Linked DNA regions of Homo sapiens: region 1 is linked to region 2. A link means that fine-mapping ties the variant in region 2 to the expression of a gene that starts in the linked region. Tissue or cell type: whole blood. Region 2 holds a variant in brackets; the other region holds the start of a gene. All regions are shown on one strand. Distances are between the middles of the regions.

Region 1 (2,762 bases), 38 kb after region 2:
TCATGGTCTGGCCTGGCCCTCTCTCAAAGAACATCTCATTCTGCTCTCTTTACCACCACATTCTGGTCACACTGGCCTCCCTGGAGATTTCTACCTGGCTCAAGCCATGCTTCTCACATGTAATTCTTCTGCTTGGCACTCTGCCAACTCTTCCCCGACTACATCTTTGCTGAGCTTTTGGTCTCATCTGAAATGTCTCCTCCTCAAAGAAGCTGTTCTATACAACTCCATCTAACTGGAGTTCCCTACCCTGCTGTGCACAAATTTTTCTTGATCACTTCACCCTTTTAAGTAGCCTTCATAGACTTATCACTATTGATAATTACTTAGTTGTTGTTTACTTTATATCATTTATTTTCTCCATCATATTGTTAATTCTGTAAAGGCGCAGGCCATTTCTGTTTGTTCCTTGCTGTATGTGATGCTTCATAGGTATGTAGCATAGGAGATCCTGAATACATTTTCTGTCATCCTTACCCTGACTTTATCTTACCTTTTTGGGTTTGTTTTCCTTATGTTCTTGTTTTCTTACTTTGTATTGAAATGAGAGAAAAACTCACAACCCCCAGGCTCTACTCAAGGTTGGGGGCCAGAGGAGGTAGAGCTTCCTCTGCTCCTGTCTCTTCCACCCGCCATCCACTCACTCGCCATTAGTACTGTGTGTTGTGGGCAAAAGAAAAGCTTTCTACTAGTGTTTCTTCCCAGGGAATGTGGGATTCATCCTGGAATGCCAAAATAAGGATGAATTGTCTAAAGAGAAAACCAGAATGCCTTTCTGGACCAAAGATTGAAATTGCTCTGCCTAATAATGTAAACAGTTTATTTTCACTGACTGGGGGCAGAGTGTTCCTTAGCGAGATTAATATGATACTAGCTGCTTTTTTGTCTTCCTCTGGCAAAGGCTAGAGATAACAAAAATTGGGGTTCTAGACTCTAGGGAGGAAGGACAACATTCACAGCTCCATTTGTAGGAGGTGAGGAGGGCCCTTGAGAAAAGTGGGGTGTGAGCGAGTATAGGACATTCAGGAGAGAGATGATCAGTAGGGGACACCCTGGGAGAAAGAGATTCTGAGCTCTTTTCTTTTCTCCGGAGCCCTGACCCTTGAGCAGTGGCACACAGAGTGTCTTCCTTTATTCTCTGGTACAGTAGTCATGTTTCTTGGCACAGTGCCTTGGACCTTCCATACATGCTTTCTTCCCTCCAGAGCCTTCGTCTAAGATGCTGGAGAGTAGCTTATAGCCTGGGCATCAAGTTTGTCGATTCTCCCCAGGACCCTTTTCTTTATAGGTGCCACATGTCATGATTTATGCACAAACATGATTTGCCTGACAGTGCAGTCTGGGCCTGGAATAATTTTAATTAATGGGAAAATGGTCCTCAATACACCGATTAGACCTCTTCAGGTACAACAAGATAAAAGCCTGATAATTTGGATGGAGTACTCTTCTTAAATATCTACTCTGTGCACGGCAGCCAATGGGAAAGCCAGGCTCTCTCCCACCTGATCCAATGAGTAATTAAGAGAGGGCTTTTTCTTCCCTACCTCTCCCCTGCCTCCACCCCGCTCCCCAACTAAAGCTTAACAGGTTGGTGGCATAATGTGGAGACTTTTAAGGGGTGTCATCCTAGGAGCTTAGGCAAGAGCCAGGGTATCTTCTCTCCGCTCCCCAAGCACTGTTCAAGTGGGTTTGAAAAGCAGGCAAGTGAGGGAAGGAAGAAGCTAGAAGCAGGCAAGTTGGGTAACGGCTCTCGGCAAAGTTCGAGAAGTGCCTATGGCCATGAGTGAGCTGGGCACTCGGAAGCCCAGCGATGGCACTGTTTCTCATCTGCTCAATGTGGTGGAGAGTGAGCTTCAGGCAGGGAGGGAAAAAGGCGACCCTACGGAGAAGCAACTTCAGATCATCCTGGAGGATGCACCTCTCTGGCAGAGATTCAAGGAAGTCACTAATGAGATGATTGTGACCAAGAATGGCAGGTGAGTTTATCTGCCGCCCCGCGTGGGCTGGCAGGGCTTGGCAGGAGAGATGAGACCCCTTGAATATTGAAGAGGCTGCCGCTCTTCACTCAGAGGCGGCGGGATCTGATTAAACATGCTTACAGGAACGACTGTCTCCAATGGCTTTCCTCCAGCCAACTTAATTAATTTATCTGAGATCATCAGAGGATGAAGCCACCTGTCTTATGTGCATTTTAAATGGAGAAATTCTGGGGAAATTACCATAAAGTGGGGGGCATGCCCCATTGGGATGGGAAAATGGACTTAAATGTCAGAAAATAATATTAATTTGTGACTAGCTGCATACCCTATCGCAGACCTGAGCCCCAACTCCGTCCAGATAAGGTGAAAGACAACTTTATTTGGAAGCTGGATGATCTCCTCCTAAGTATAGCAAACTTGCCAGAAATGTTTGGCTAGTTGAAGATTGGAAGCAAAAGGGCAAATGTAAACTCATTGCCTATCACTTCATCTGCTTCCCCGTGTGTGTTTGTGGTGAGTGTTCATTTGAGATTGTGTGTGTTTGTGATGATATGAAAGCTGTTGCAGTAATAGTGGATGAAAACATATTATTCTGCTTTAGAGAAAAGAAGATGCCTTCTTTCTTATCAGTGCAACAAATTTAGGGATTAACTGAAACTGATCTCTGGTGGCATTTCTCAGATTCTATTAAACCTAGTCTGCTAAGGGGCTGTCCAGGTAATATTAGAAGATTTCACTTCGTAGAGGAGACGCAAATATTTTGAAACAAAATCTCACCGCTCG
Region 2 (2,762 bases):
GAGTGCAGTGGCCCGATGTCAGCTCACCTCAGTCTCCAACCTCCTGGCTTCAAGCTGTTCTCCTGCCTCAGCCTCCATGTGCACGCCACCATGCCAGGCTCATTTTTTGTATTTTTAGTAGAGATGGGGTTTCACCGTGTTGGCCAGGCTGGTCTCGAACTCCTGACCTCAAGTGATTGGCCCACCTCGGCCTCCCAAAGTGCTGGGTTTACAGGTCCGAACCACCATGCCTGGCCCCACCCTTCTATTTGTAAGTTCCCCTGGAATAGCTTTTCCCACAGTGTTCCACAGAAATAGTGTTTCTGTGGAAGAAAAGAGTTCTATGATCAAGTAAGTTTGAGAAACAGGTTAAGCAAAATTAGGTAGGTTCCTCTTTGCCTGGCTTGCTAGATCCTTCCATATGCTATGTGTATTGTGAGCTGCCATGAGGGGGACTTATGTGGCCATAAAACCCTTCTTGTGCAGAGACTCTTCTGAGACTACAGTGCAGAGTATATCTCAAGAAATGCTGCCCTGGAACCATCTTGATATTAAAATGCAGTGCCTACTCATGGAAATGCATCCATTCACCTCTCCCTCCCTTATGTGACTCCCAATGTCCTTAGTGCAGCACAGTTGAGAACGTGGAACAGAGCTGGGGTATGAGAAGCCTAGTGCCACATTGCACAGTGTGGTGTGGTGGTGGAAATGGAAGTGCTTGCTTGGGTAGAATAGTAATTTCTTGAAGACCAACTCTTCCTTGCACCCTCTACACTGAATTCCAAGCAGTAAATACCTGTGATAAGGCCATTATAGCATATTAATAAGTGCTCAGGACCCATAGTGAGCTCCCTTCTGCTGCCTGCTTAGAATGAAGAAAGGTCCCAGTTAATATTTGATTTAATGCTGTCAGTGCATTCTGTGATTTTGACCGATATTAAAGTGCAGCAATCCTGACTGATTTCTTAGTTTCTGACAGTCTATGTTATCTTTTTCTCTGATTATGATGGCTAATCCCATAATCAGACTGTCGGGTAAGTGGGGACATCCCCTCTTACAGATGAGGAATTTGAAACTCAAACAGGACAAGGAACTTTCCCAGGATAGTACTACTAATAAATGTTGAAGCTGCAGTTTGATGCTGTGAAGGTCTGATCTTTCAGTCTAGGTGCTTTCTACTCTGCAGCTTCCACTCTGGGTGCCCTCTAAAGGAGTGCCTTTGGGGTGATGACGTTCCACTCATCTTTGTGTCTTTTCTTTCCTAGGGATGCTGTGAAGAAGTGTTTTGCCGTGTGTCTTGCATAATTCATGGCCAGTTTTATGAAGCTTTGGAAGGCACTATGGACAGAAGCTGGTGGACAGTTTTGTAACTATCTTCGAAACCTCTGTCTTACAGACATGTGCCTTTTATCTTGCAGCAATGTGTTGCTTGTGATTCGA[A/G]CATTTGAGGGTTACTTTTGGAAGCAACAATACATTCTCGAACCTGAATGTCAGTAGCACAGGATGAGAAGTGGGTTCTGTATCTTGTGGAGTGGAATCTTCCTCATGTACCTGTTTCCTCTCTGGATGTTGTCCCACTGAATTCCCATGAATACAAACCTATTCAGCAACAGCACATAAGCCTTGGGTGCAAGTGATTCCCAGGTGGCAAAAGGCAGCCCCATCAGAGATCACGGGAGCAACAGTAAGGGACAGAGTTTTGGGGTCCACTTGTCCCTCAGCATGGAAGCCATCACCGTGGTCCTGCATAGAGTGAGTCTGCTTCTACTCTGGCATCTGAGAACAAGTGACTCTGCTTTAGACAAGCCCCTGGAGAGCCTGGCCATGGAGTGAGGTAGAAAAGAAGCACTTTTTGGTGGTATATGCTGTTTCTGAATTTGAATCTAAGCATTCTTGGTGTTCTGATTCTGCGCCTGACTGTGGAATGTATTTTCTGACATTAGGTGCAGACTCTTTTTCTCTTGGGTTTTATTTCCCATCCCTCCCTCCCTCTCCCTGCATATCTTTCTTTATGACCTCCTGGCACTAGATGGGGAAAGAACAGAGCAGCAGCAGAAAATGCTGCTGTTTTTTTTTTGGACGAGAGCCCATAGGAGTTGAAAAATCCTGCTGCTCTCAGCTATATTTTTTTCTCCATTATTTATAAATGTTTGCTTTTAAACTGATTTTATTTTCCATTCTCCCCTGGAGTTGGGCCAGGGGAGAGTGGGGTGGGAAGACAGATCCCTGCTGTGCAGCCAGCAGGAAGTAGGCACGCCTGCCCAGTGACCTTTAAATAGTCCCAGTGTTTGCACTTAGCCTGTGCTGGGGACACTGGGGATAAACTGCAGGTGGTCTCATGTCAGCCTGATGCCTAACCTACAAAGTGCTTTTGTGTCCACGATCTTACCTGGTTCTTATGGAGAGCCTTGTGAGGAAGCAGGGATTGTTATACCACTGTGCAGTCAAGGGAATCAAGGCCCACACTGGTTTTTGGATCCACCCAAAGCCACAGCTTCAGCCTCCTTCATGACCCCAGAGTTTCCTGGCCTGTTTCTGGTTGTGCCTCCTGTAACTGCCTGTGACTGTTTCCCTCGTTTTCATCAGCCAAGCCATCTCCTCCCTGGCCCTCCCTGCCCATCTCTTTTGGAAGCTTCTTCCTGGATCTGCAGGATGTTCACTGTCCCTTGTGTTCCCTTTCAGCTCCTCCTTGTTGCCTGACTACGATTAGTGCCCTGTCTTGTCAGCCAGCATTCCTGGCCCTCCAGGACCTCCAGAGTCATCCTACAAATGACGTTTATCTG

Evidence for each region. PIP is the estimated chance that this variant, and not a neighbour inherited with it, causes the effect.
Region 1: TBX19 starts here. The variant in region 2 is fine-mapped to the expression of TBX19 in whole blood (TOPMed, PIP above 0.99).

The regions. Positions count from the first base shown.
Region 1 is chr1:168,279,318-168,282,079 of GRCh38, forward strand. It overlaps TBX19 (T-box transcription factor 19), which reads left to right and starts at 1,560. Exons shown (of 8, transcript NM_005149.3): 1 at 1,560-1,976. The coding sequence starts at 1,774.
Region 2 is chr1:168,241,257-168,244,018 of GRCh38, forward strand. SFT2D2 (SFT2 domain containing 2) reads left to right here. Exons shown (of 8, transcript NM_199344.3): 8 at 1,245-2,762. The coding sequence ends at 1,284. Among named protein-coding and RNA genes, the nearest start is that of SFT2D2, 17 kb to the left of the region's middle. The variant A/G (reference allele first, on the strand shown) is at 1,420.